Homo sapiens: one gene and its partners. The protein of the gene in region 3 purifies or fractionates together with the protein of the main gene of each other region. This does not show direct contact. Each region holds a gene or a part of one and is shown on either strand. Other genes may lie near its edges. The genes, in order: METAP1D, SUPT5H, PAK5 and GMPPA.

Evidence for each region.
Region 1: the proteins of PAK5 (region 3) and METAP1D purify together in Homo sapiens (affinity purification with mass spectrometry; 2 studies listed by BioGRID and IntAct, with this or other methods). This does not show direct contact.
Region 2: the proteins of PAK5 (region 3) and SUPT5H purify together in Homo sapiens (affinity purification with mass spectrometry; 2 studies listed by BioGRID and IntAct, with this or other methods). This does not show direct contact.
Region 4: the proteins of PAK5 (region 3) and GMPPA purify together in Homo sapiens (affinity purification with mass spectrometry; 2 studies listed by BioGRID and IntAct, with this or other methods). This does not show direct contact.

What each region holds. Positions count from the first base shown.
Region 1 is NC_000002.12:172,079,334-172,084,407, reverse strand, and holds the end of METAP1D (methionine aminopeptidase 1D, mitochondrial isoform 1 precursor), read right to left. Parts: intron 4,281-5,074; coding exon 4,202-4,280; intron 4,081-4,201; coding exon 4,002-4,080; 3' UTR 1,978-4,001; downstream 1-1,977. UniProt on the Homo sapiens protein: Removes the N-terminal methionine from nascent proteins. The N-terminal methionine is often cleaved when the second residue in the primary sequence is small and uncharged (Met-Ala-, Cys, Gly, Pro, Ser, Thr, or Val).
Region 2 is NC_000019.10:39,462,502-39,471,597, reverse strand, and holds part of SUPT5H (transcription elongation factor SPT5), read right to left. Parts: intron 6,801-9,096; coding exon 6,549-6,800; intron 5,119-6,548; coding exon 5,029-5,118; intron 4,924-5,028; coding exon 4,853-4,923; intron 3,377-4,852; exon of another isoform or gene 3,305-3,376; intron 2,843-3,304; coding exon 2,737-2,842; intron 2,520-2,736; coding exon 2,426-2,519; intron 2,337-2,425; coding exon 2,200-2,336; intron 1,480-2,199; coding exon 1,324-1,479; intron 1,222-1,323; coding exon 1,075-1,221; intron 242-1,074; coding exon 95-241; intron 1-94. UniProt on the Homo sapiens protein: Component of the DRB sensitivity-inducing factor complex (DSIF complex), which regulates mRNA processing and transcription elongation by RNA polymerase II.
Region 3 is NC_000020.11:9,535,856-9,543,158, forward strand, and holds the end of PAK5 (serine/threonine-protein kinase PAK 5), read right to left. Parts: intron 6,866-7,303; coding exon 6,731-6,865; intron 3,763-6,730; coding exon 3,607-3,762; 3' UTR 1,515-3,606; downstream 1-1,514.
Region 4 is NC_000002.12:219,500,757-219,508,451, reverse strand, and holds the end of GMPPA (mannose-1-phosphate guanylyltransferase regulatory subunit alpha), read right to left. Parts: intron 6,977-7,695; coding exon 6,873-6,976; intron 6,602-6,872; coding exon 6,415-6,601; intron 6,071-6,414; coding exon 6,011-6,070; intron 4,370-6,010; coding exon 4,239-4,369; intron 3,599-4,238; coding exon of another isoform or gene 3,584-3,598; intron 3,225-3,583; coding exon 3,090-3,224; intron 2,995-3,089; coding exon 2,897-2,994; coding exon of another isoform or gene 2,738-2,896; coding exon 2,691-2,737; intron 2,473-2,690; coding exon 2,380-2,472; intron 2,199-2,379; coding exon 2,030-2,198; intron 1,755-2,029; coding exon 1,654-1,754; 3' UTR 1,463-1,653; downstream 1-1,462. UniProt on the Homo sapiens protein: Regulatory subunit of the GMPPA-GMPPB mannose-1-phosphate guanylyltransferase complex; reduces the catalytic activity of GMPPB when part of the complex. Mediates allosteric feedback inhibition of GMPPB catalytic activity upon binding GDP-alpha-D-mannose.

The DNA of each region.
Region 1 (5,074 bases), on a different chromosome or scaffold from region 3:
TCTTCCTCACCTCCAGTGGCCAAAGCGCGCGCCACCAGGCCTAGGGGGCAGGGCTAGTGGAGGCAAGATCTGCCGCTGCTCCTTCTGTCTTCTGGGGTGCTAGGTACAAAAAAGTGCACAAGAGCCCCCACCCCATCGCCACTACTACCAATACAGCCAGTCCCTCGCGGTGTGGCGTACACCACCCTGGCTGTAAGTGGATGTTGGTTCCCCATCCCGCCAGCCCCACGGTGAATCCCAAATTACTTTGTTAGGTAATTAGAAAGTGTTGATAATTATTTCTTTCATAATTTAGCGGTGTGACGGGAACGGGGAAATGATCTTGTGAAAGTTCACACGTGCAGATGTATTAGTTACTGATTCATTTGATTAAATGGTAGTCTCAAGTGCTCAGATCCGCAGCTGAAGGCGCCCCATTAGCATAACACTGATGTTTAATTTTCATACGCATAATTAGCCATATATTTAACACTAATAGCAACATGCAGCCTTTCAGCGTTAAACAGCCCGGGATTTGATCTGGCCTGAGCTGAACCTTCATCGCTGCACCTTCCCCTGTCTGGAGTGTGCAATGATCACAGGACAAACCTCTGTAATCAAGCACATTTTGGCAGAGGGAACACCAATAAAAATGAACATTCAAAACAAATTACATCGGTGCTGTCGTTACAGATATTAGTAGAGGGGGTTTCTCTTTTTTTTTAACTTCTGTACCAGCTGCTGCTGCCCGCAGAATTCCTCTCCTTTGGTTTAAGGGCACAATGCTGGGGGCAGAAATATTTCAGGCAGAGTGGTTGGAGCAAAAAGAAAAGCAAAAGCAAAAAAAACCCAATACGCCAAACCAATAACGGGTTTGCCAACGTTTAAAAGATTTTTTTTTTCTTAATCACCGAACCACACGGTGAGGCTTTGTAGCAACAGCCAGCTAATGATTCCGCCACCAGGCAACTCCGGGAGCCGCTCGGCTCGTCCTGATTTCTGTGTCGCACTTGTGGTTTTAATTGCTCCTTCCTAGTGCCTGTTTTAGGGTATGGAGTGCCACGCCGTGTGCCCAGCACAGTCGCTCGGATACTGCCGGGCCCCAGGTCTCTCGCGCGTGCCCTGAGGGCCTTGCCCAAGTAAGTGATCGCCGCGGCGGGCGCGGGGTCGGGGTTGGGACCGGGGAAAGCGGAATTGGTAATTCCCGGAGCTCAGGGCAAGGCGTGAGGAAACCCGACGGCCGGGCCGCCTAGGGACAGTGTATTCCAGAGACTTGCAAGGTGGGGGAAGGGGAGAGACGGCCGCACATCGCGACAGTCTCTTGGGTGCTCTGTGTCCACAGCTGGAAAAGGATCAAAGACTTTTGCGGTAGCACAGGGGACCTGGTTGCCTTCTTGGAACAAAAGTCCGGCATGAGCCCCTCGGGATACTGTTTCAGAGCCTTGCTTAATTTAGAAGCGGGTTGTGTGTGAGCAAGAGATGGCTACACTCCGGAATTATTTCTTAGCTCAGAAAGGTCTAGGGAGGAGCACTGAGCGCGGGCCCTCTGATGCCGAGCCGCTGGCGGTAGCTGGTTTCTCAATGTGGGATCTTAGCTGCACTCAGTGAACTTGGAGTGGATCCCTCCCACCCCCTACTGCTAAGGTGACACCTGTTCTGAATGCCGGTTTGCTTAAATTGTTGCCTGCCCTCACTCTGAGAGAAAACAAAACTCTCCCATTTGTCCTGAGGGTCCGGGATTCCTCATGGAGCCTACTGGAGTCACCTCAGGACCAGGAGGTCCTGGTGGTGTTAGCCGCAGCCACTCTTGGCTGGAATCCCAGTGGCTCTGGGTGAGGTTTTCGGCCAGTTCAGCTGGAAGAGGGACAGGAAGGCGTGGACGAGGTATTTTTAAATCTACTTCCTAATCTCAACTTCAAAGCATGTTAAAGGGAGTTCTTTAGGGAGCTGCTGAGTGTTGGTACACACATACACACATATATATATACACCCACACACTTTAGGTTAGTCCCTTTAATAAATGGAATTATAAACTTGTCCCATAAATACCTCCACCTCAAAATAATTGCTGCACAAGCAGCGTGTTACCTCAGTGGTTAGTAAAGTCCTGTGGTCCTAATAAAACTATCCTTGGGGAACCTCGGAGTAAACTGATTTGCAGATAAGATACAATGCTAATGGTTGCAATCTGATTGCCTTAGGAGAAAACTGAAGTCATTCTCCAGCAAACATCTCCCAAGGCCAGCTGAACCCTCTTGATCTTTAGGGAATTCAGATCTTTGGGGGGGTGGGGGGCAGTAGCATCAGGCTGTGGGCCTCTGCTTGGCCAACTTCCGACCACACAAAAAGTTTTTCTATGGACCTTGTAAATCATCAACCCCTCCTTGGTCTTTTCCAGTTCTCAGACTCACTAGAATCAGAAACACCTCTATCCAAAAATCTACAACCCTGGACACAAAGAAGCCGAGCTGGAGGGGTTGGGGGACGACGAGAGAACCCTGTGTTAGGTAAAAGCTGGAACTCATCTCTTTTCCGAGCCACCTGGTCCTCAGTTTCCCGTATTATGAATGTTACAAAGATGAGCTGGCTCTTAGTCCTGGCCGAGGACACCACCTGTCCTGGCAACTACAGGTGCCATTTCCTTGCCGCTTCCGAAAGCCCAAGTTATCTTTAAGGGATGTCAGCTTTGCAAAACCCGCTTCAGTAGAAACAAGAGTTAGCACAACCATTAACTGCTTGAACACCCTCGTTGGACTTGTTCCTAAAATCATAACCGAAGGCAGACGGCTTCCTTCGTGGACTGCCAGAGGCCCGGCCTCTCCCTGCCCTTGAGCTCAGGTGAGGAACAGGTACCGGAGAGCAAGCGCAAGGGAAAGGAGGGTGCTCCGGGCAGGAATGGCCCTTGGCAGACAGAGCGTGGGCCCTTGGATTCCTGTTCCTGAAGCGGGATGGAACTGCCGGCCGAACTGGAGCTCAACTCGCAAGCTTCAGTCCCGGCCAAGTAGGCCCTTGCTCTCAAATGCGCCCGTATCTCCTCTCTCTGGGACCCTCTCGGTTTCCAGAACAGCTGACGTTTGCGGCTCCTGCAGCGTGCAAGCGCGGGTCCCGATGCGAGAAGGGCCAGTCTGGGGAGGGGTCATTTTAGAGACTAGACCGCCCACTAATCAGCCACTGTTCACACCTGGGCGAGTGGGGCCCAAGCTCGAATTCCTAGTGCAGCAAACGGTCTAGCGTGCGTGCGTGCGTGTGGGGTGGGTGGGGGGAGGGCCTCAAACTTCACCTCTGGACTGGCCTTGGAGGGCTGGATGTGGGCGGGGGAGGAAGAGCCGCAGGGGTCCAGGAAAGTCGCGTTTCTGGATTGACAGAAACCTGAAGAATGGCCAGGCCCAGAGTCCACTGCCAAGGACATGTTTGTAATCAATGCCTCTGTTCGCGGGCTAATCTTTCATCGCAAAGCCGCGATGGAGGGGAAAGATACGGAAGGGCTGGGGTTGGGGGCTGGCTTCTGCGAGCATCCTTGGGGCCGGCCAATATGGAATACACAAAAGGGAGAAACGGATTCTTAAAAATCCCAGTCAACAGGTTCGGATTTTTCGGCAGACGTGCAAAGTTCAGATACAAAGATCACTGTAACTGTCAGAGAGGTAAGGACCTCTGATACAATGGATTTAAGAGGTTTTTTACTCCAACAGTCAGGGCAAGGGAAAGAGAAAACCGTGCTTCTCTTGGAATCTCTTCCAACAAGGGGGTTTCCTCCAGTCCCCTCCAGATGCGTTGACCGCGCTGGGAAACCGAGTCCAGGGCCAGGATTTGTTTTTCCAAAGCCGCGCGACCCCAGCAGGGCTTCAGATCCGAGTTCCCAGTTGCTCTTCAGTCTCCCCCGCGTTCTTCCAAACGCTATCAGGAGCCACGCAGGTTACCGCACCACCGGTCATTTCCCTGTTTCTTCTAAAAGTTCTCCAGCCAAATTTCAGCAATTTATTTAAAAAGGCACCAGGTCACCGCGACCTTCGGGCGGCTCCTCAGGCCTCATGGGGTAGTTTGGTCAGGATCTGCGCGCCCCTCGACGTGATCAGAACCGTGTGCTCGAACTGCGCCGACCTGTAACACAGCACCCAGCCGTCAGAACGCGCACGCAAGCTCCGGCCGGGCCACAAGCGCGCCGTCGGACCAATCTTCCTTTCCCATACAATTTAAAAGCAACAGAGCAGAAAGCAAACACCTTTGATTGTCTAGGGAGACCACAGTCCATGCATCCTCCAGGACTTTAAATTCAGGGGATCCCTCCGTGATGATTGGCTCTGTAAGAGGAAAAATATTTACTGCAGTGACCTCATCAGATTCTTGTTAAACATTGTTTCCGGCTGATTATTAAAAAAGAGAAGTTTCTCCTCCCTCCCCTCAAGTGCTTCCCCCACAGGCTCATGTTGTCATCTTGCAAGGGTTGATAATTGATGTTGCTTACATAGTATACTACAAACTAAACAGTTGGAAGAGGAAACACTGCGCCATTCAAAATGTATGAAGTTGCCTAGTTCGTAATTTTTTAGAGAAAGAAGGGCATTTTAATCAAGCTTTAATTAGGACCCCGTGGATAATAACCACCCAAACACCAGTCCCTCTTATAAATACCAATTTTTAAAAAAATATTTAAATTTTAAAAACATGCTCGAGATGTTCATTCATCAGCAAATAACAATTTTCTTATTTCACTCTAATTGCTTCTCCATTAAGTCCCACAGTCAGAAACAGGATGTCTTTACGGCCCTAGGTGACTGGAATTTGGTGGTGATACCAATCACAGGATCAGCCAGGAACGGGCCACCAGAGAGCACATGCCACTTGCTGACAGGGAGCAAGGGACATAATCGTGTCTAGTTACTGGGTGTTAATGAAAAAACAAAACAAAACAAAAAACCCAACACCACATTATGCTGGTAACAGAATTAGAGGTTGGATGGCTGCCTTCTCCTAAATGTGTCGGTAAGTATCTGATTTAGGAAGATGGGGCTTGAGGATATTATTTAATCAGATTTCCAGTGCATCCGAATTATTTCATTACACTGATTGGCTTTATTGGTCCTTCACCGGACTG
Region 2 (9,096 bases), on a different chromosome or scaffold from region 3:
GGGAGAGAAGGGTCACTCTCTTGACCATGTCCCCCTCACCCCCAACCAACCAAATTCTTTCAGATGCAGCTCAAAAGCAGGAACTTGTACTCACTGAGTGGGGGCCATCAATGACCTTAACGATGTCTTTCACATGGATGTTGTTCTGCTCTGAGTCCAAGGCCACAGCAAAGCGGTTGTCCTTCTTCCGGGTCACAGCCTGATGTCTGACAGTCACCACCTTCCCGTACATGTTCAGCACCTACAGAGGGAGAGCAGGGAGGCTGTGGGGGTGAGAATGGGAAGGGGAGACACGGGGCAGGGGTTCCCTAAAGTGGGATAATCCTTCCTTGTGGGAGACAGTCCCAAGCTCCACAAGGCATCTCAATTCCCTGGCTGCGGGGCAGGCAGGCAGAGTGCCACCCTTTAGGTACTGGGTCAACCAAAAATGTTCCCAGTCATTCTAAAACACCCTTTGGAAGGAGACTCCACCCCCGATTGGGCAACAGGGACCTGAGAGATGGAAGAAGGGGCTGATAGCAACATTGTTCATCCATCATTCTGTGTCAGGCCCCGTAAGATTTCACTGAAGCCTCAAAACTTCCTCTGAGGTGGATTCTGTCATGATTTCCATCTTACAGAGGGAAACTCAGGCTCAGAGAGGGTGAGTCACTAGCCCAGGGTCAGACAGCACAGGAGCAACAAAGCCAAGATGTGGATGTGGAGTCCAGGATCCTAAGTACTGTGCTCCATGACTCCCACATCCATGAGGAAGGAGCAAAGGCAGGAGGGCACATGTGGCACTCCATCCTTGAGCGAGCAACAGCCACCAGGGTACAGATCTAACCTCAGGGAATCATTCACTATGAACAAAGTAGACGCTGCTCTCGTTTCCATTTTATAGGGTGTGAAAACAGGCAAGGGGAGGGATCAATGACTTGCCATGTGCCCACTATCAGCCATTCAGATGTAAGTGACAGAGCCAGATCTGCAACCCAGAGCAGTCTGGGGGCTCTGCCACCTCCCAGGATGAGGGGTTGAGGGACAGGAAGCCTCCTAAAAGCAAGTCCCCGCCACAGAGCACAACACACACACCTGGAAGGTCTCCCGTTCTAGTCGCACGATGACACCCACAGTCTGGGGATCCAGCTGCACCAGCTCGCCCCATTCATGCTGGCCCCCAACATCCACACCTGATGCTGTCTCTGAGCAGAGCTGCAGGTCCCGGGGGAGCACCTTCAGCTGCCAGGGATGGTGAAAGGGGTGAGGCCCAGTCCAGGTGGCTCGCCTACCTGGGTCTCCTCTTGGCACGTGCACCCTTCCCCGACCCTTCTATCCACCTACCTCATGCATGGTGAGGTCAGAGAACAGGATAACGAAATTCTCCTCCACCCGCACAATGAGGCCTGTGTCGCCCTCGAATCGGCCAGCAATCACCTTCACGTGGTCCCCCATCTTGAAGTATTTTCTAAGTTCCTGGGCTGGGAACTCCAACATGTCCTGGGGGATTGGGTGTGGGGACAACAAACAGGTGAAGGGAGACCACCACAACCTGCCTGCCCCTCCTGTCTTCAGAATCTACGCATGTTCTCAAAAACCCCACTTCAGGCTCTTACCACCCACCCCAGACTACCTTAGTCCACCTGGACGACCCCTCAGACTGCCCCAGAAACAGCTGACCCCAGACACAGGACACCAACCTGGACAACCTTTACCCCAGCCCGCCCTCAAGACACACGATGCCTACCTATACCCACACAGAGAGCCTGCCCCTCAGACACAGGACCCCCGACTGGACAGCTCCTCAGCCCCACCCGGAGACAGCCTCACCCCACACATCACACTGGGCCTGCACAACCCCTCAGACATACACCAGACACAGACAAACACACACCCCGCTCTAAGCAAACAAAGTCAAGCCTCAGATTACTCCTTGGTTAATCACACTCTCAACCCAGTACTACCCAGATATCTTGCTTTTCAGAAACAAAAGATAGACCAAGTCACTCTCCAGAGACAGACACCACCAGGCAGGCCTGCTGCCCACCGACCCTGAGCTGCACTCAGACAGAGCCTCTCAGGCACCTGAGAATGCTAGAAGGGCCTCAACTTACCCTCCTGGAAACCAGGTGTCACCAGGCACACCACCGCCTCGACAGCCACATACAGTCAGATGTGCCTGAACACTCCAACCCCTGCCCGAGAACACCGGGCACCCACCTTGAGGTCCTCATGCTTGGGCATGATGGTGATCTTGTTGCCATCCACGCTGAGGATCTTGCCCTGCAGGTTGATGAGCTCACCCTCACAGACCTCCACGTTGTCCCCAGGTTGGAAGTTGTGCTCCCGCTCCTTCCCTGCAGGGGCAGTCGTAGGGCTGACTCGGGGGTTGCCACCATGGGCCGCCCCTGCTCCTTGGCCCAGGTTATAGAGGGGGATCAAATACCTGTGCTCTCAGTCACCACCTCCAGGTCAATGCCCTCTGGCTGGTCCTCAAACTTTTCCAGCTCAGAGAGTGTTGGCTTCACACCCTCCGTGATCTAAGCCCCCAGCGGTGAGGGGAAGAGAAGGAAATGGACCGAGGTCAGTGCAACAGCCCAGCTGAGTGGGCTGAGTGGGTCCTAGGGGAATAATTCTCCTAGGGAACACTCCTAACTTGAGGAGTGGGACAGAACCAGATAACCCACAGCCCAGGGCATCACCTGCAGGAGAACACTCACACCACCCCCATTACCAACACCCCTCTGGGACCCTCACCACAGCAGACATGGCGAAGCTCTTGAACAGAAAGCCCTTCCGGCTGTAACGGTTCCCCTCAAAGATGAGGAAGTCACCATCAGAGGCAACATCACCCCCCAGGGACCTGGAATTTGATGGGGGAGAGAAGATTAGAAGGGAGAGTCAAGAAGAAAATCTTGCTGTACCTCAGTCTTCTCAGCTGGCAACAGAAGGAGAGGACCACAGGCAGACTGACCCATCCCATCCCAGCACACACCCTCTTGGCAGCAGTGACTTCTCACAAACCCCAAAGGCCCGCCTCCCACCTCCCTGCACTCCTCCACCCATTCCCTGATTTATCTTTGAGCACCGATCACCATCTGACAATCTAGTGTTTGACCTGTCCCCCTAACTAGCATGTCAGCTCCAGAAGGTCAGGGATGTAACATTCACTAAATTTCACCAAGAATAGTGCCCAGTACACAGAAAGTATGCAGTAAACATTAGCTGAACAAAATAACAGTTTCAGACAATGATACCAGTGAATATTCGCAGAGCGCTCAGCCTGGCCTGCACACTCATGACCTCACAGGCTCTTCCCCAAATCTGTGGCATCAGTAACTGCTCATCATTTCCAGGTGAGGGAATGCAGGCTCAGGAAGGTCACATCACATGCCCAAGGGTGCCAAGCCACAGTCTTGACAGGATTCAAAAGCAGGCAGGTGGGACTCCCAAGCCTGCAGCTCCCGGCCCCAAATGTGGAGTGGCGGCCGCTTAGTGCCTGTTCCGAGTCTCCGGGGTGGGGAAGGAGCCTCCTTCATGGAGGAGCAGGTCAAGTTCCTCCTGCGCTCATGCAATCGCCTTCTCCCATGGTGAATCTGGGAGAGGGGCCAGCATGCTCTGCTGGGCATGCTGGGGTACTTGGTCAGCTGGCTTGCTGGGGGGTAAGGGAGCACTAGGGTTTGTTCTTTGCAAAGAGAGGTTCAGGTGAGTCGAAACCAGTGGTATAAATGGGTCCGAACTCAGGCAGGTGAAGTATTAGCAAGGCCCTTGGGTGCAGACTCAAAGGTGCATTCCACAGCTCTTCCTTTATCTGAAGGAAAACCTGACTGGCTGAATCACACACAATTAGTTCTAGAACAGGACCAGAGGGAAGAGTGTCACTGGCACCTCTCGTTTCTCCATGTCCTCCTCTCCTGCCCTCCCTGCCGGAGCCCCCAGTTGGCCCTGGGATGTTGAAATTCCTGGGCTGCTCCAATTCTCTACCCAGCTAGGGAGTCTGGGGGGCATCCTGAGGGAAAGGCACTCCATACCCCCCCATCTCAAGTGGGCATAAGCAGATCAGGAAAGGAGACTTTCTAAAGCCTGACATAGTCCATGAATCCCATTTCAATATATCACACCATGGATCACACTTACTACGTGCCAAGGGCATTCTGAGTACATATGCATACTAATTTATTTAATTCTCACTATAATCTATAATCTGAGGAAGCAGAGGTTGTTTTCTTTTTTTTTGAGACGGAGTCTCGCTCTGTCACCCAGGCTGGAGTGCAGTGGCACGATCTCGGCTCACTGCAATTTCTGCCTCGTGGGTTTAAGCGATTCTCCTGCCTCAGCCTCCCAAGTAGCTTGGATTACAGGAGCTGACCACAACCCTTGGCTAATTTTTGTATTTTTAGTAGAGACAAGGTTTCACCATGTTGGCCAGGCTGGTCTTGAACTCCTGACCTCAAGTGATCCGCCCGCCTCGGCCTCCCAAAGCGCTGGGATTATAGGTGTGAGCCATCACGCCCAGCCTCATCAATCTTTTTAAATATTTTTTTAACTTTTTTCTTTTTATTATTATTATTATTTTAAAAGATGGGATCTCATTATGTTGCCCAGGCTGGTCTCGAACTCCTTGCCTCAAGCAAGCCTCCTGCCTTAGCCTTCCAAAGTGCTCCCTCCCGCTGCGCCCAGCCTCATCAATCTTTATAGCAGAAGAAACTGAGGCACAGGGATGTGAAGTGACTTGCCTGAGGCTATACTGCCAAGCTAACCAATTCACAGGCTAAACCTGTGGCGGGGCCACCCCTGGGGAGGAACCTGCAAAAGGCACATTCTACACACCGGCCCTGGGGACCCAGCCCAGCCAGTCCCCAAGGACACGCACCTGATCTTCTCAGCATCAAACAGCCTCTGTGGAGGCCGCTTAAACTTCTTCCTTTTGGCAAACCAGTCTTTCTATGGAGGAAAGGGGCATGGGTGGGAAGGGTGAGGGAGGGGGCTTGGCCACCAGTGGGATCGAGCACACTCCCTCCCCCCCAGGCCACAGATTCCCCTGAGTACCAAGCTCATGCGGGCCTTGATGCGATCGTAGTCGATGCGTGGGATCATCTTCAGGGAGATGGTGTTCTGGCTGGGCTCCACGTAGTCCACCTGAGCAGGGCGAGCAGAAGGTCAGCAGGGCCCCACTCTCCTCCCTGACCCCAGACACAAGAAGGGTCAGGAGATGCTAGGAAGGAGAAGGGACGCAGGATGGTGGGGAAGAAACCAGGCTGCTGACCACTCCCAAAAGTCCCACGCTAGCTTGTCTGTCCCCTCAACTCTGGCACTGAGTAGCCACTGCCTGCTTGGTATCTCCACCTGGATGTCTAAAGGTCCCTCAAATCCAGGACGACCGCAGCCAAACCGCTGATTCCCCCAAACCTGCCGCCTCCCACTCCATTCTTCCCTCTGCTCAGGCACACAACCTGGGAGCCACTCTTGACTCCTTTGTTTCTCTTACACCCACACCCGACCCGTTGGCAAATTCCATCAGCTCTGCCTTCAAAATACCTGACCTCTTCCCCTCCTCCACTGCAGTCTCAGCATTCCAAATCCAAAAACCCAAAATGCTCAAAAATAGGAAACCCTGTGAGCACCAACATGATGCTCGAAGGAAATGCTCACTCTTGGATTTTCAGATTTGGGATGCTCAACCGGTAAGTATAATGCAAATATTCCAAAAGCTGAAAAAATCTGAAATCTGAAAAACACCTGTGGTCTCAAGAATTCAGGTTAGAGACACTCAACGTGTATTAGGGTCTTGGTCCTATCCCACCAGCACTGCCATCTGGGTGGGATGTGCTACAGCAGCAGCCTCCTCCCTGGTCTCCACGCTCTTGCCCATGGCCCCCTCCAGGCTATTCCCGGGTTTCTCAGCCTTGGCACTATTGACTTTTTGGGCCAGGTAATTTTTTGTTGTGGGCAGCCATCCTGTGCATTGGAGGATGTGTGTGTCTAGCATTTCTGGCTTTAACCTGCTAGATGCCATAATCGTCAACCCCCTCCCCAGCTGACATAACCAAAAATGTCTCCAGACGTTACCAAATGTCCCCTGGGGAAACATCACCCTGGCTTGAGAACCAGTGGTCTAGTCTCAACACAGTCACCAGAGAAATCTTATTAACATTGAAGTCTGCCTGTGTCCCTTACAGCCCTCCCATCCTACGCCAGTAAACACCAAAGCTCTCCAATGGGCCGCAGGCCCTCGTGAGCTCCCTAACTCATCTCACGCCATCCCTGCTGTAGCCAGTGACTGTGCCATCCTATCTCACAGGCCACTCCTGCTGCCTACAACACTCCTCCCCAAGAGCTCCACATGCCTCACGCCCTCCGATCCTTCAGACCTTTACTCAACACGCCTGGGAATGTGCACAGAAGACAGCCAACCGTTTCCTGTGTGCTCACAAAACCCAGGCTCTGCTTCAACTCATCTGAGTGGGATTCTATTCTCTGCAGCACAAAGAGGGTGGGAAGGACAAAAGGAAAGGAAGGGAGAACAGAATGGAGGGACCCTGACCCCCATGCCACCCCGCCCCGGGCACCTGAGCAATGTCATCCTTGTAGATGCCCCGCTTGAGGCGGACCCAGGACTTTGGTTTCAGGTTGGCCACCTCCTTCACCACTTTGAGCACGTCTGTCATCTCCTTGATGGGCACCATCTGCTGGTTCCAGTAGCCAAGCCGCAGGTTGCCCACCCCCTCAATGGCCTGCTTCACGTGGGTCTGCTTGTAGGCCTCCACGTAGATGTAGCCCTTCACATGCTCTGGTGCCACTACTGACTTGATCTGCAGGGGCTGCAGGGTGAGCCGGTGGAAGGAGGAAACAGTGAGACACAACGGCTAATAACAGAAATGACTGCCACTCATCAGCAGTCCCTCTTCTAGGAATTTATTCCACAGAAACACACTGGCACAATGACATGGACACAAAGGTGTTCCCTGCAGAATTATTTATCACAGCAAACAAACCAGACTAAAAATTTTAAAAATATCCAGAAACAGTAACTAGTTAACTTATGGCTTAATGTACCATGAAATACAATGTTGCAGTTAAAGAATACAAAAACTAGCTGGGTGTGATGGCACATGCCTGTAGTCCCAGCTACTCAGGAGGCTGAGCAGGGAGGACTGCTTGAGCCCGGGAGGTTGAGGCTGCAGTGAGCTGAGATCGCACCACTGCACTCCAGCCTGGGCAACAGAGTGAAACCCTGTCTCTTAAAAATAAAAAATAAAATAAAAATTAGATTAACCTGTATGTACTAATATAGAAAGCTATCCAACATATGTTCTGTGTAAAAAAGCAACTAGAGCCGGGCACGGTGGCTCATGCTTGTAATCCCAGCACTTTGGGAGGCCGAGGCGGGTGGATCACTTGGGGTCAAGAGTTCAAGACCAGCCTGACCAACACGGAGAAACCCTGTCTCTACTAAAAATATCCAAGATTAGCCGGGTGTGGTGGCACATGCCTGTCATCCCAGCTACACGGGAGGCTGAGGCAGAAGAGTCGCTTGAACCCGGGAGGTGGAGGTTGCGGTAAGCTGAGATCGCACCATTGCACTCCAGTCTGGGCAATAAGAGCAAAACTCCGTCTCAAAAAAAAAAAAAAAGCAACTAGAAGAAGAACCAAGAAAGGAGTGCTTACATCAGACAAAATATACTTTAAGACAAAAATTGCTACCAGAGACAACAAAAAACATTTTGTAACAATAAAAAGGTCAATCCATCAGGAAGATAGAATTACAAATGTATATGAAACTAACAGAGCCTCAAAATACATGAAGCAGAAACTAATGAAAATGAAGGAAGAAACTGACAACTCAACAGTAACAATCACTGACTGCAATACCCTGCTTTCAATCATGGATAGAGCTAGACCCAAGATCAACAAGGAAAGAGAACACTTGAGCAACACTGTAAGCCACCTAAACCTAATAGCCAGCTATAGACAGAACATTTCGTCTTCACTTTCCACTTATTAAGCGGAAATGGGAAAAAAGAACACTCCATCTAACAACAGCAGAATGCACTTTCTTCTCAAGGGCATATTAAACTTTCCAGAATAAACCACAGGTTAGGCCATAAAACACGTCTCAGTAAACATAAAAGAACTAAAATCATATAAAGTATATTCTCCATCCATATGTAATGAAGTTAAAAACCAACAGAAAGATACTTAGGAAATTCACAAATACATGGCAACACACTCCTAGATACCAAAACTTATGAGATTTGAAAAAAGCCATGCTTAGAAGTAAATGTATAGCTGTAAATACCAACTAAAAGAAAAAAAAGGCCAGGAGCGGTGGCTCATGCCTGTAATCCCAGCACTTTGGGAGGCCGAGGCAGGAGGATCACTTGAGGTCGGGAGTTCAATACCAGCCTGGCCAACATGGTGAAACCTTGCCTCTACTAAAAATACAAAAATTAAGGCCGGTTGGCCAGGCGCAGTGGGTTCATGCCTGTAATCCCAGCACTTTGGGAGGCTGAGGGGTGGATCATCTGAGGTCAGGAGTTCAAGGTCAGCCTGGCCAACATGGTGAAACCCCATCTCTACTAAAAATACCAAAAAAAAAAAAAAAAAAAAAATTAGCTGGGCATGGTGGTGGGTGCCTGTAATCCCAGCTACTTGGGAGGCTGAGGCAGGAGAATCGCTTGAACCCGGGAGGTGCAGGTTGCGGTGAGCCGAGATCGCATCATTGCACTCCAGCCTGGGCAACGGTGCGAGACTCTGTCTCAAAAAAAAAAAAAAAAAAGAAAATTAAGGCTGGGCACAGTGGCTCACGCCTGTAATCCCAACACTTTGGGAGGCCGAGGTGGGCCGATCACCTGAGGTCAGGAGTTCGAGACCAGCCTGGCCAACATGCTGAAACCCTATCTCTACTAAAAACACAAAAATTAGCCAGGCGTGGTGTCGGGTGCCTGTAATCCCAGCTACTTGGGAGATTGAGACAGGAGAATCAGTTGAGCCTGGGAGGCAGTGGTTGCAGTGGGCCAAGACTGCACCATTACATTCTAGCCTGGGCAAGAAGAGTAAAACTCCATCTCAAAAAAACAAACAAAAAAATGAAGTCTTGATATATGCTACAATATG
Region 3 (7,303 bases):
TCTCTTAAATACCTTCTTCAAATCATGGGGTCTCACACTAACACATGGCCCTATTCTATGTGGACTAGTGGGGAGCGGAGGTTCCAGTAACCTAGCTGGCTGTAGTCAGCTGCCTTGGAGATGCTATTGGAGGAAAGGGAGAGGCCTGAGTCTCATTTTGGTTCCACTGAAAACTACAGCTTCTGCTGTTCGGAGTGGTCTTTGTGTAGATGACATATGTGGTTTTTAGAGTAAGGGTCAGCTCCACCTTGACCCTGTCTCCATGCAGAAAAGCAGCCATATTTCCCTTCAGTTGCCCCCATGGTGCACCCCTCCAAAGCACTCTGCAAGTTGGACATCCTGTTACTTAGTTAAGTGGTTTGACACATTCCCTGCTGTCCTCTCCATGTCCCATCAAACATACTCAAGGGAACTCCATGTCTTCTTCCATGCCCAGTAAAGGCAGAGGAGACCTGTCCAGGGGAGGTTGCCTCCACCTTTGTCTGCCCTGACATGTGATATACAATGCCTTTTTTTCATCCTGCTAGCTCAGGCTACTTCCTGAGGGTTTTTACCTTCCAACATTTCTGGATGGAAAATAGGCTGTGTATATAAAAGTTCCCCCATCCTCCAGCTTCACGAGATCAATGTTAATGTCCCCCTTGTCTCCCAAAGTGGAGGAGAGAGCCCAAATTATCTTCTAGGCTCCCAGAGAGCTCTCAACACGACCTCTTGAATCCAGGTTCTATTATAAATACACATGCACACGTATGTTTATTGTGGCACTATTCACAATAGCAAAGACTTAGAACCAACCCAAATGTCCATCAATAATAGACTGGATAAAGAAAATGTGGCACATATACACCATGGAATACTATGCAGCCATAAAAAAAGATGAGTTCATGTCTTTGCAGGGACACGGATGAAGCTGGAAACCATCATTCTCAGCAAACTATCATAAGAACAGAAAACCAAACACCGTATGTTTTCACTAATAAGTGGGAGTTGAACAATGAGAACACATGGACATAGGGAAGGGAACGTCACACACTGGGGCCTGTGAGGGTGTGGGTGGTTAGGGGAGAGATAACATTAGGAGAAATATCTAATGTAGGTGATGGGTTGATGGGTGCAGCAAACTACCACGAGAGGTGTACACCTATGTAACAAAACTGCATGTTCTGCACATGTAACCCAGAACTTAAGGTATAATAATTAATTAATTAATTAATTTTTAAAAAAGCCCTCAGATCAGTTTTGCATCTTTGGAACAGGGAAGTAGAATGAGAGTCTTCAGCCCTGAACCTGGCTTTCCTTGAACGTGGCCTTCCAGAATTTAGTAATTTTTTTTTCAGTAGTGGTATCGACATCACCATCTTACACTCTTTACAATCCCTAGGGATGGATATATTTGTCTTTACGTCATGTCATCACAATGTTACATACAACTTTGTACCAACTCATTTGCACTCCCCAAGATCACAAAGAAATCATTCTTGGTTACTCAATAAAATAAATTTGAGAAATCACTGTTTCCAATAACACAATGGGGAAAAGGCAAACATTTATTTTTATTTGCAAATGCAGTTTCTGCCAATAGTTAGTGCTCACAAAACCTTTTAAGCTACAGTAACTTTTGGTAAACTCAATGAATACTTTAAAAAATACCCGATGGTAAGAAAATTACAGAAAAATTTCCATTACACTGTCGAAAATGTTTGGAATCCAAAATCCACTATTTTCTGCAATAGTTTTTAATGTTTATTCTGGTTTAAAAAAGATTTTCTTTTTCTTTTCTTTCTACTTCTACATAGTCCTGGTTAAATTAATACAATCTGTCTCATGAACATTTAGGACTGCCATTTTCTGGATTTAGATTGTTTTTATTCTCACATATTTATATTAATGCTTTAATATTTTACATAAAACATTGATTTGCTGTTTTATGAAGCAAAATCATAGATCATATTTATGGAGGCATTTCCAGTTTGAAAGAAAACTGAAAATCTAATCAGTAGAAGGTCATTTTATGCCTTTTTTCCTTTTTAGCAGTGATAAATAATTAGCAACCTATTAATTACAAAAATTCTTAATTATGCTTAGAGCAACCAGAGCGCTATCACAAATTTAAATTCATATTTGTTACAGTATGTGAAATAGTTAAGAAAAGCCTCTGTTTTCCCAGTTTGGTAACAAATGGCTTTTGTCTGATGCATAATTAATAGAAACTAATGATGACTATGTAGCTCTTCCAGAGTTTTAAAGGCAAATCTATATTGGCCTACAGTTAACATGCAAATTCATCCAACAAGCAACACAAAATGTATTGTAGTAGTCATTCATTTTTATCAACATTCAAGAAGATCTAGACAGCAGCACGACTCTCCTATGTCGGAAACACATTATAACATGGGCACAACTGAAGTCAGATCATACCTGGTAAAATACCCTCTTGCTAATTCATCCTCTAGAGTCAGTTCAGACTTCCAGCACGATACATGAACAATAGCGATTAATACTGTGGTACAAAGGTAAATATAGACAAGAGTTTGGTGTGCTAGCATACAGAGTTTTAAAAATGGTGACAAATGAAACCAAACGTCTTGCCCTGTTCTCTCCTCTCCCTTTGTGAGCCTGGAATTCTCATGGTCTCACTGAAACATTCTATTTTGGGAACTGAATCCAATGATCCTAGCACTGAAATTGCTCCCTGGGAGGGAAATTTGGCCACAAGGGAACATTGTACCCATTTGAGAAAGGGCACTGAGGGAAACATTGTGGTGTGCAAAAGAATGGTTTGCTACTAGAGGCGTTCATGGAAAATGTGATCTTTAAAAATATTTAACTTTATCCCAAGGAGTGGTATACTGTGGCTCAAATTTTATTTCATTATTTTTGGTTGGATTAATGAAACGTGCACACCATCACCATCACTCTTAATTCTTCTTCCACCAAATAAGACACTTGTTAGGATAAGAAAGAGATTTTACTAAAGCTGACGGTGATTGAGAGTCATTCAGTATTCAAAGTTCCTAAAGAATCATTGGTTCTCTTAAAGGGATAAAAAAGTAGGAAAGGCTTTGTTCAAACTCCTCTAGTAAACAAGTATTACTTCAACTGATACAATGGCTACATGACATCAAAGTACTATAAATTATCAAAACTATCGTACAGAAAAATTACAAATTCGTTGCAAAATACATTATACTGCTACCATTAAGAAAAAAGTGCTTTTTGTTTTCCTTTCTTTCTTTTTTTTTTTTTTTTGCCAGAAAAGTATTCTTTCAATATAGAAAATCCTACATGTTACCCTGCATGTGGCTAGGATATATCATAACGGAGTTTGTACTGAGTCCTTCTGATTTGCTGGATGAAGGGCTGAAAAATATAATAATGACTTATTAAAGCCGTGCTCCAAGTGACCACACCGGCTGTCAGTGGAGAGATGCCTGTTTAAGACACAAGAAGATGCCCTGGTCTGTTGAACCCTGCCGGTCATCACGCTGTCCCACCAATTGGCTGGTCTAGAATGCACAGGCCTTTTGCATGTTCTGTGTTTCCTTTTGTTCTCCTGAATTATTCTCATGTCCTCATCTAGCTTTGCCACCTACACGAATCCTCTGCTCAGTGATGCCTGTATTGTCTCATGAGGGGGACGATGCAAGACGGTGGACCTGCTAGTTTTAAGAATGGATGTCCGAGGAGTTCCTGGGCTGTTGCTCTCTGAGAGGGCTCCCTCACCAACATCAAGTCTAGGAATCCCCGGAGCACTGAAGAAACCTGTGAAAACACACAGATACCAATCTGAGGACTAACACAGACACCTAACCCAGTCCCCAAAATGTTTTCCCCATTCATCCTATCAACAACTTCAAATTCCAGAAAGTTACCTTAAGGAGAAAGATGTTGTGAAAGCAAAAGCATGTCTTGTCTTTGTTAACATTTCGTGTTTTCCTTACCTTTTTCAAGTGTGAAATAATAGGTGTAAATGACAGCTCAACTAAGAATGAAAACTTATTTACTACATAAAATAACAGTGGCAATCACAGTGATAAGAGCAGCTATTACAAAATATTTAGTATGTGCAGGTGCTGGTCACACGTGCTTGATGAAGCATAGTATAAACAGGGAGCCGTTTTATTTTTCTAACAACTGCAACCACACAGGCTCTGTGGAACCCCTTTCTTTAAGAGAAACAAGCTTCTGTAAGGATATCGAACACATCTCATTTTTTTCTTTGAAGGTCTTGTAATTTTCCTTTTAAAGGTATATCTTACTTTATGTATATATTTAGAGATGAGGTCTCACTATGTTGCCCAGGCTCAAACTCCTGTGCTCAAATGATCCTCCCACCTCAGCCTCCTGAGTAGCTGGGAGTACAAGCATGTGCCAGCATGCCCAGGTTCCGCTGCACAAATACTAAGAGTGTGGCTCAATGGATTTTTACATACATTTACCCCTATTTACTTTCCACTCCTATCAAGATATAGAACTTTTCTACCACTCTAGGAAGCTACTTTTAGGTTTCCTTCCTGCCAACCCCTATCTCCCTGCAAAAGGTCACCACTATTTTAATTTATAGCATAACTTAGTTTTGCTTACTTTTGTACTTTACCAAAATGGAGTCATATATTTGATTTCTTCTCTATCTGGCTTCTTTCACTCAGTGTTGTATCTGTGAGATTCATCTCCGACGTGTGGCAAAAGTTATATCTTTTAAATTACTGTGTAGTATTCACTGTCCAATTATACCACACATTATCCATTTGGGAAACAACCTCGGACTGGTTTCCAGTTTTTTTGAAACCATTAGGATTAAAGTTGTTCTTGTACATGGTTTTGAAGAACATTGGCACTCACTGGGTGTGAGACTACTTTCATATGATACATTTTTAGTCACTTTTTTTTTTTTTTTTGGAGACGTAGTCTCGCTGTGTCACCTAGGCTGGAGTGCAGTGGTGCGATCTGGGCTCACTGCAAGCTCTGCCTCCCAGGTTCACGCCATTCTCCTGCCTCAGCCTCCTGAGTAGCTGGGACTACAGGCACCCGCCACCATGCTTGGCTAATTTTTTGTATTTTTAGTGGAGATGGGGTTTCACCGTGTTAGCCAGGATGGTCTCCATCTCCTGACCTCGTGATCCGCCCACCTCGGCCTTCCAGAGTGCTGGGATTACAGGCGTGAGCCACCACACCCAGCCACTTTTCATTATTTAGACTTAGTCCAATCCAGTAAAAATTTCAATCTCTCTTTTTTTGTTTATGTTTTTGTAGGTCCACACAACCTATATGAGTGATGCTACTGGGGCTGTTCCCTAAGATTTAGGGGTGAGGAAGGAGGAGATATTACCATTACAAATAATTCTCCTCCAAAAGGCAGCCACACACTCTCTTTTATTGTCATAAGATAGGAAGAGAGGTGTGTATGGGGCCAGTGTTTATAGTAGTAGTCCTGCAGAAATGATCCTCTGAGCAAGTCCTTTGGAAATCTGGCAGCTCCTACAGTGGTGATTCTTGGATGAAGCATCATTATTTTCTGAGCTCGTCCTAATTGGCAATCCTTGGAAAACAGAAAAGACCCCACTCGGTCTCTTACATGCATTATATTAACCATGACCTTCATTGCCCTGTACAATCTAGCTCCTGCCCATCTCTCTGACAAGACCTACCTTTTTCCCCTTTCTGACTTTACTCCAGCAATGTAAGCCTTCTTTCTTGGCTTAAGGCCTTTCCACTTGATGCTCCCCGTGCCTGGGACCTTTTTCTCCAAGATCTTTGCATGGCTGGTACCTTCTTCCTATTCAGGTCCCAGCTCGTTTGATCCCTCCCTAGAAAGGGCTTCCTTCACTCTTCAGCTTAAATCAGTGATAGGGTTTGGCTCTCTGTGCCCACTCAAATCTCACCTCATATTGTAATCCTCACATGTCAAGGGAGGGACTTGGTGGAAGGTAATTGGGTCATGGGGGCAGTTTACCCCATGTTATTCTCAAGATAGTGAGGGAATTATCATGAGAGCTGATAGTTTTATAAGTGTCTGGCATTTCCCCTGTGCGCTCTCTCTCTCCTGCCACCATGTAAGACATGCCTTGCTTCCCCTTCGCCTTCTGCCATGATTGTAAGTATCCTGAGGCCTCTCCAGGCATGTGGAACTGTGAGTTAATTAAACCTTCTTTATTTGTAAATTACTCAGTCTTGGGTATTTCTTTATAGTAGTGTAAAAACAGACTCATACAACCAGCTTTCAATCCCTTCTCCTGCACACTCTGTCACATCACAGTATGTTTTTCTTTCATAGTATGTACCACACTCTGAAATTATTTTATTTATTTGTTTGTTTATGGTTTACTATCTGTTTCCCCAACTAGAATGCAGAGTCTAGACCCCAGAGTCAGAAAAGCTGGGGTCATGCACGGTGACATCCCAAGCTATTAGATGTCCCCAGCATGTAATAGATGCTGAATGAATGAGTATGGCATAGAGCACCTGATTTACTCTTCTAACCAACCCTTTGGGATACAGGCCAATCATAACCCATTTTACAGATGAAGAACTTTGGCATAGGAAAGGCTGAGTCACTTGCCCAGTAAACGAATAGAAGAACAGAGATTCAAACCTAAGTGACTATTTCCAAAGTCCATGCTCATAAACCAGGATCTTCCTGCTGGATGTGGTAAGCCAGTCTTAAAAACCAGAGAGATACAGGAAAATCCAAAAACTATTCTGAACTTTAGCAACAGCTGCTGTTTCTCACCTTGTGTAGGTCCTTCACTCTTGGAGGTAAACTGTCCCGGATCCTCCGCATCGCCTGGAGGGGAGGCTCATTGAAGTAGGGGGGCTCGCCATCAATCATTTCTATCACCATGATCCCGAGGGACCAGATGTCCACCTGTTAGGCACACCCTACTGGTTATCTCAGGCAAGGAGAACATTCTGAAATGTCAAGTGTGTCCACAGAACCTCATACTCATTCACAAGTGACTATGGCACTTGTAACCTCTCAACATTTACAATATAGATTTATAGGCTAAACTGCTGGGTTACCGAGTTTTTGCTAACAGTCTTTGCCTTTTATGGACAACTTCAGTGAAGGTTCCACCCATCAGACATAAATGAATATTTTAACATTCTAAAGTTTAGTGCTTTCATTTTTACTCTGTAAACTTTAGTAGTTAACTGTCTATCAGGGCAGATGAGAAAATCATCCGGTTTAATGCTATGAAAATGGAGAAGAAAATTGTATTTAAACCATAAGCAAATAAGAAAGTTTTGACATATTTGTAACAAACTGCAAAGGGCTACCTTGCAGGATGCAGAATATATTCTG
Region 4 (7,695 bases), on a different chromosome or scaffold from region 3:
TGACCCTTTCCCCTTCCACTGCCTCTCCCCACCATGTCCCCACCCCCACTGGGTCTAGGAGGGGGATCCCGGGGGCCAGGGCCTGACACAGACTTATTGGATTTCACGGTGTTTTGCTGAGAAAATAATTAAATTATCATATTTATGATGGAGCTGCCATGGCCTCTGCCAACCACTCGGAACAGAAGGGTCAGGACTAGGGGGGAGGAGAGGGAAGGGACCTAGCCCCTGGTCCTATGGCCCACCCTCTCCCAGCCCCTTCCTTGGGGTGATGACCCCAGCCCAGAGTGGGGACCTGCAGCCCCCTCCCACTCCCATGAAGAGAGATAATGAAGGTCTGGGCTGGAGGCCAGGACAGGAGGAACTGAGGAACTAGGGACAGCTTATAGGTCAGGACTGCTAAACCCCACACTGTGTAGATCGTTCCCTACATGCTGGCACACAGCCCACGGGACCTGAGGGGCCTGGGAGGTCACATTTGGCCCAATCCCCAAGTCAACCTCAGTCCAGCTCCTGAGAAGGCGCAGCTTCCTAACTGCCAGGCTATGAAGCTATGAAACCCTGGGCTCTGTCCCAGAGCCTGGTGCTGATAACAAGGCCCCAGCACCCTGCTGCCTGCCACCCCTGCCTGCTGCCAGGACCCCCTCCTTTCTCCCACCCATGCCCTGCACCCCCCATTCTCTTCGGGTAATTAGATTCCTCTCAATTAGCAGATTACGATCATTACCAGCTCATCTGGCAACACAGCTCCACACCCACAGCTGGGGAAGGGGGGCACCAAGAGGGGCACATGGGGGTCATGGGCAAACATGAGAGATGGCTGGGAGAGGAGGGCTGAGACCTACCAAAGGGCAGGGCCAGGGGGACAGGAGGTGGTGAGGGCCTTCCCAGAACAGGGTACCTCCCACTGTGCTTCCGAAGAGAATGGCACCAGCTCAGGCCCACCCAGCCTGCCAGGGGAGTAGAAGACAGAGACATGAGGCCTCGGGCAGAGGCAAAACCCCCACCCTGCCAAAAGCCAAGCTGGGAGCAGATGGAGCTGGCAAAGCGGAAAACCGGCCAGGGCTGGGCTCAGCGGGAACCGAGCAGAGCGGGCTGTGGGGATCAGCCTCTAGGCCTGTGGCCCCAGTTCCTCTGCCTGCTGCCCAACCAAAATCCTTCACCCTTCCCTTCGGAATCCTTGCACATGGGGGCCTGAGCCAGGCCCGGTGAGGAGGAACAGGGAGGCAGGGAGGCAGGGGTGAAGGGGGGGACCAGGCTGGCAGGGGAGCCTAGAGGGCCTTCCTCCCGAGCAGCACGAGGCTGAGGCAGTGGGAGGGGGAGATTTACCAGGGCTCCAGATTCATTATTCATGAGCCCACAGCAACGACTCCAATTTAAATGCTAATGTGGGGGGGCCTGACTCAGCTGCCCCGCTTCCGCCCCCACCCCCAGCCCAGACATAAGTACAGTCTGTGCTGGCTCCAAGGTTCACGGGGTTTATTAGGGAGTCGGGAGGGAGAAAACCCAGGAGTCCCCAGGCCATCCACATTGCTCCCCGGCATGTGACGATCCAGCCTGGCTTTCTCTGGTCCTTTCTGGACAGAGGCTGGCCAAGCAGGCAGCAGCCTCAAGGGGAGTGGGTAGGAGCTGGGGGCCTTCTGGCAGCCCTACTCAGAGGATGATCTGGTTGGTGAAGCTTCGGCTCAGCTCCTTGTGTGGCAGAACAATCGAGTTCAGGATGAGCACCTCGGCAGGGATCCGGACTCGGCAGCCTGCAGCATGGATGAGGGCACCAGGGGAGGTCATGGGAGGGGAGACAGGGGCAGGGAGCTGGGGGCCACTGCCAGCAGGGAGGGAGCCCTCCTGCCCATCTGTGCCCCTGGTCTCATGCCCCCGGTGACTCACACAGGGCCTGGCACACAGCAGGCCCTTGGTAACTGTTTGCTAAAAGAAGAAACACGCGTGCACACAGAGGAACGAATGCTCCCCGGGGCCACTGGCCATCAGCTGAGGGGTTCCCCCAGCCCTGGCCCCCAGGAAGCCATACCCAGGATGGTGATAGCAGGCAGCAGCTTCCCGTCCTTGAAGAGGCTCTCACTGTCCATGCGGGCTCGGGGATCGTTGGGGTTAGGGTCACTGGGGGTACCCTCCACGCGGGCCCAGCGTCCCACGGTGCTCCCCCAGCCCACGATGCTATGCAGAACACACGTGTGCTCCTGCCAAAGAGGACAGTGAAAGGTAAGGGGAAGAGGCAGGAGGCAGCAGGAACCGGAGGGTGTGAGGTGTGGCCAGATGCAGAGCCCACGGCGTTCACCCTTCTCTGTTCTTGGGGGGATGCCTGGGCCCTCCCCGCAGCCTCTTGGGGTGTCACATGCTGCTGTGTATGCTGGTACCTACCTGCAAAGTGGCTCCATGGAGGACGATGCTCTCCCGGAGCCGCACACCCTCACCCACGGTCACCCCCTTCCCGATGGAGACGTTGGGGCCCAGCTGTGGAGAGAAGCACACACCATAAGCCCTGGAGGGACTTGGAGGATCCCCAAACCCAACTCCCTTCTAGAACAGATAAGGCATAAGTGACCTGCTCGAGGACACACAATAGGCTGTGACAAAGTGAAGAAACCGGCACCCAGAACTCAGGCAGCGTGGGCACCCTCCATCCATCCGACCACCACCCTTCCCTCCCTGGGGCTGGGACCAGTGCTCACCACAGCCGAGGGGGCCACCTTGGCGGTCGGGTGGATGTACACATTCCCTAGAAGCAGAAGAGAGGCCCTGGGGGCAAATATCCCAAACCGAATTTGATCAGGAAGGGGCAGGGATTGAGGCTTTAACTCTGGACTCGAGGTCAAGAATCCTGGTTCAGAGGGCTGGGGTGGAAGCCAAAGGTTAGGAATTGGGGCAGGCTGGGTACCTCGGATCCATGGGCCCCCTGGGGTGTGCTTGGCCAGCCGTTCTGGGTGAGTGTCCTGGTATCGGCTCAGGTAGAGGCGGGAGGCGTAGAGGGCTGAACTGGGGACCGCAAGGGGGACAGGGGCTCAGGGGTCAGCAGGGCCTGTGCCCACCACCCCAAAATTTCAATCCCCAGGGGACCCAGCCTTCCATACCCTGCGGACTTGATCTGACTCCAGATACCATCAGTGAGATGCACGTATATCTGGCCCTGCCCTGCCAGGGCTGAAAACACATCCTGCTCTAGGCGGATGGTACCTGCCCCTGGCCACAAGCCTGGTGAGTCCTCCCTGGCAGAGAGGAAGAATGCTGACATTAGTCCCCCAGCTGAGCCCCGACTGTGGGGCTAACACAGTCTCCCAGGGACAGGAGTAGGAGGATTCCCACCACCTCTCTAAGCCCCTCTCTCCAGGTCTGGTTCGGCCCTCTCTGGGATGTGGCTGCTCACATCCCAGGAACCTCTCCCACCCAGCCCCCACTTGGGTGGGTGCTATCACAAGGGAGCCCCAGGCAGAGGCCTGCTTCCCATCCCTGCCCCATTTCCATAAGGAGTTCCCCCCATTTTCACATTCTCATCCCCATTCAGCCCTTTACCCCCTCCAAGTTACCCTCCCCCTCATTGGATGGAATGAAACACAGACAGACTCACCCCAGAGCAAGGCAGCTGGTGAGGGCAGAGACAGTCACAGAAAGAAAGGGAGAGAGAGATGGTAGAGATGCCAGCTCAGCAGAGACAGAGACAGAGAGGCCAGGAGAGATGGAGAGGGAAGCAGAGACACGGGTGGGAGTGAGAAATGGCTATGAGCAGAGGAGGCCTTAGATGGGGCGGTGGGGGGTTAAGGCAAGGATCCCTAGAAGGGAACAGCTTCTAGCCCCAGGAGGGAAGACCCTGGGACTGGTGAGCAGGGCTCTGGTGCTATGTTCCAAGGGGAGCCTCAGCCTGAGAGTATGCATGTCTGTCTGTGTGTGCACGTGCACACGTCTGCACCCGAGCATGTGTGCGCCCAACTGTGTGTTGCTGTCTGTTCTGAAAGACGTCTCTGGGACACTCAGGGCTTAGGAGAAATGGACCAGAAGGGGAGTGGGCAGGCAGTGACAGAGGAGGAACTGGGATGGATAAGGAAGAGGGACAGAATGAGGTTAGAAGGGGAGGGACTCAGGAGGCTCTGCTGGAGATGGCAAGTGGAGAAGGGAGAGGGGAGGAGGAAGGTGAGCAAGTTGAGATGGAGCCTGCAGAGACTGGTATGTGTTGGGGTCCGTGACTGGGGGTACTTGGGGTCACAGGGCTATGGGGCCTGCCTCACAATTGCCCATCCTGCTGATTACGCTGGAAGACATCCCGAAGAGGCTTCAAGGCTTCAGGAGAAAAGAGGTAGATGCCGCAGTTGATGATGTCACTGATAAATGTGCTGGGTTTCTCCACATAGTGCAATACCTGAGGACAGAGCAGGCTGGGTTCAGTAGAAGAAGGGACTACCGCCACAGTCCCCTAAGACCCTCTGATTTCTAGGCCCTTCTTGCCTCTCCTCCCTGCTGCCAGGGTGGCCTGGCTAAAATGCAGTGCGCATCCGCATCCTACTGCTGCCTGGCTTTAAACCCTGAGATGACTGCCCTTCACCTGATTCAGCTTCAGATAAATCCAAAGTCCATGGCTTTCCCTGCCTGATCCTCCCCACCACCTACCTCTCAGACGCATTTCCACCCGACTGCATGCCTGTGCCTGGAATGGCCTTTCTCATCTCTTCATCTGGAAAGCCCACCTTTCCAAACCCAGTTGACACTGTCACTCTCTCTGTGCGTCCTCTCTTGCTGGCCCGAGTTAGCTGTTCATGCCTGGGCACTCCTGAACTCTGGCCACGCCTCACCCATGGCATTGTATCATTTGCAAAGGTTGCCTTTTGATTCTGTCACTCCTATTAGACTCACAGTAACCAAGAGGCAGGGACTGCACCCATTTGGCTCTGTTTCTCTCACAGCTACCTGGTGCTGAGCACAAAACTATATGTGTGTAGGTGTGTACATGCATGTGTGTGTGCGTGTTTATATGTATGTTTTATATTAAAGCACGAACAAATAAAAGGAGTATGTGACGCCAGGTATGGTGGTGGCTCATGCCTATAATCCTAGCACTTTGGAAGGCTGAAGTAGGTGGATCACTTGAGCTCCGGAGTTCGAGACCAGCCTGGGCAGTATGACGAAAGCCTGTCTCTACTAAAAATACAAAAATTAGCCTGGCACCTGCCTGTAATCCCAGCTACTCAGGAGGCTGAGGCAGGAGAACGGCATGAACCCAGGAGGCAGAGGCTGCAGTGAGCCAAGATCGCACCACTGCACTCCAGCCTGGGCAACAGAGTGAGACTCTGTCTCAAAAAAAAAAAAAAATCAGCTGGGCATGGTGGCTCATGCCTATAGTCCCAGCTACTTGAGGGGCTGAAGTGGGAGGATGGCTTAAACCTGGGAGGTCGAGGATGCAGTGACCCAAGATCATGCCACTGCACTCCAGCCTGGAAGACAAAGTGAGACTCTGTCTCAAAATAAATAAATAAACACATACATACATAAATAAATAAAGGAGGGAGGGTTATGTGAAAGTCAAGGGGCTTAGGAGAAGGGAGTTTCACAAAACAGGACAGAGCCCTGCTGCCCTGCCTATCATGCTCCTGCTTCTGGTATGTTACTTCCTGCCTCCAGGCCTTTATACCTGCCATTCCCTCTGCCTGTAGTACCTTCCTGTCTCCTTTGTCATCTAGACAAATGGGACTCTGCTCAGACCTTGCTTCCTCCAGGAAGCCCTCTCTACTCCCACCCCAGCAAGGCTGGGTTGGGGCCCCCTTGGTGTTCCCATCATGCACTGTGCATACATTTATTACAGCACCACCCCCAGGGAAATTAACCATTCCCCCCCTCCCCCTGGTCAATCTCTCTTAAAGGGATATAAGATGATTAATCGGGAGTGTCTCACCTGTCTGACAAGACTAGAGCCCACCCCATACTGTGCCAGCATTCTCTAGAGGCCTGAGGTAGAGGGGATGATGACACAGAGTAGGCACCCACCCAGCCCCCACTCTGCTCTCACCTCGTGTGTCTGTGGATTCTCAACGATGCAGCCGTAGTTGAGGGATTGCGTCCTGTTAGCCTGAAAGACAGACACACCCGAGACAGTGACCCGCCTGCTCCAGGGCAGCCACGTCTGTTTTTTCTTTCTTTCCCTCCGCTACAGCACCTGGCATGCAGCTCTGCCACTGACAGGCCTTCAGCAAGGGTGGAAACTGACAGCTGCCCTCCCCCTCCCTACTTCTGAACAGCCAGAGGGCTCGGGGTCTCCACTAACACCTCCATGCTGCCAGAGCAGCGCATCTCCCTCCTGACGCCAGCTCCCACACCAACTCCCGGGGCGCCCCTGCCTCCCCAACACCCTGAATTCCGGGAAGCTCTTGGGATCACCTCCTCTACACCCTCCAGCCCTCCTGACCCCCTCACCGTAGTGCCAAGGAGTAAGAAAGGGTGACGCTGGCGTCGGTGGGCTTCCAACATAGCACTCAAGGGGAAGTCGGAGCAGACATCAGCATTGAGCACGAAGAATGCCTCGGGGCTCCCAGCCAGGATCTGGTCTCGAAAATGGTAAAGACCACCCCCTGTGCCTAGGGGGGCAAATTCCTGCAGGTACCTGTCCCCAGGGACCCGAGAGCCAGCTCAGTGGATCTTAGGAAACAGATACCATGAGCCAGGGCACCTGACCGCCACCGCTTGCTCCCAGGACTACTCCTGCCCAAGGCCCACAGAGAAACTCTATATACTCAGAGATTCATTGATGTCCAAACAAGAATCCTTCTAGTAGGCGAGGATGAACTCCAGCAAATGCTGACTCAACCCACTTCCAAGAACTCAGAGGCCTAGGGCATCCCCACCCCCCCATATACGAGTGTGTGCACAAACACCTGACTGGAAGGTTAAACTCCTGCTGGGCGGCTTCTAGGAACTGGGTGAGGGGCTCATCAGGTTGGTAGAAGCCAATGAGCAGAATCTCCTGCATTCCAGGGACCTGAGGACAAGGGAAGAGGCTGGGATGAAGAATATCTAATAGGAGGGGATGTTGGGGAAATCCTTGGTGCTGGCCCAAAGTCCAGAAACCAGTTTCAGTCTCAGCTGTGGGGCCCCAGGGCACTCACCACTCTGGGCTATTTTCTCCTCTGGACAATGAGGAATTTGGAGGAAGTCGGAGGCCTGATCTTTTTTCGTTTTGTTTTATTTTTGTGAAAAAGGGTCTCGCTCTGTTGCCCAGGCTGGAGTGCAGTGGCATGATTTTGGCTCACTGCAGCCTCCACGTCCTGGGCTCAAGCGATCCTCCCACCTCAGCCTCCTGAGTATTGAAGACTACAGCCATGTCACCACCTGCCTCAGCCTCTAGAGCAGCTAGGACTACAGCCAGGCCATCACATCTAGCTAATTTTTAAACTTTTTGTAGAGAAGGGGTCTCTTGATGTTGCCAAAGCTAGGCTAGAACTCCTGGCCTCAAGCGATCCTCCTGACTCGGCCTCAAAAAGCGTTGGGATTACAGACATGAGCTACCATGCCAGGCCTGATCTTTCAATCAATTATTACCCCCACCAACCTGAACTGGGACTCACTCTAAGAAAGACTTTGCCTACCAAGCTGCATTAATCCATTTCCACCCCGCCCCCTCCCCCCCGGCCATTTTTATTATCTGTCAGCCTAAGCTTGAGATCAGCATGAGGTAAGGGTACCATTTATCAAGGGTCT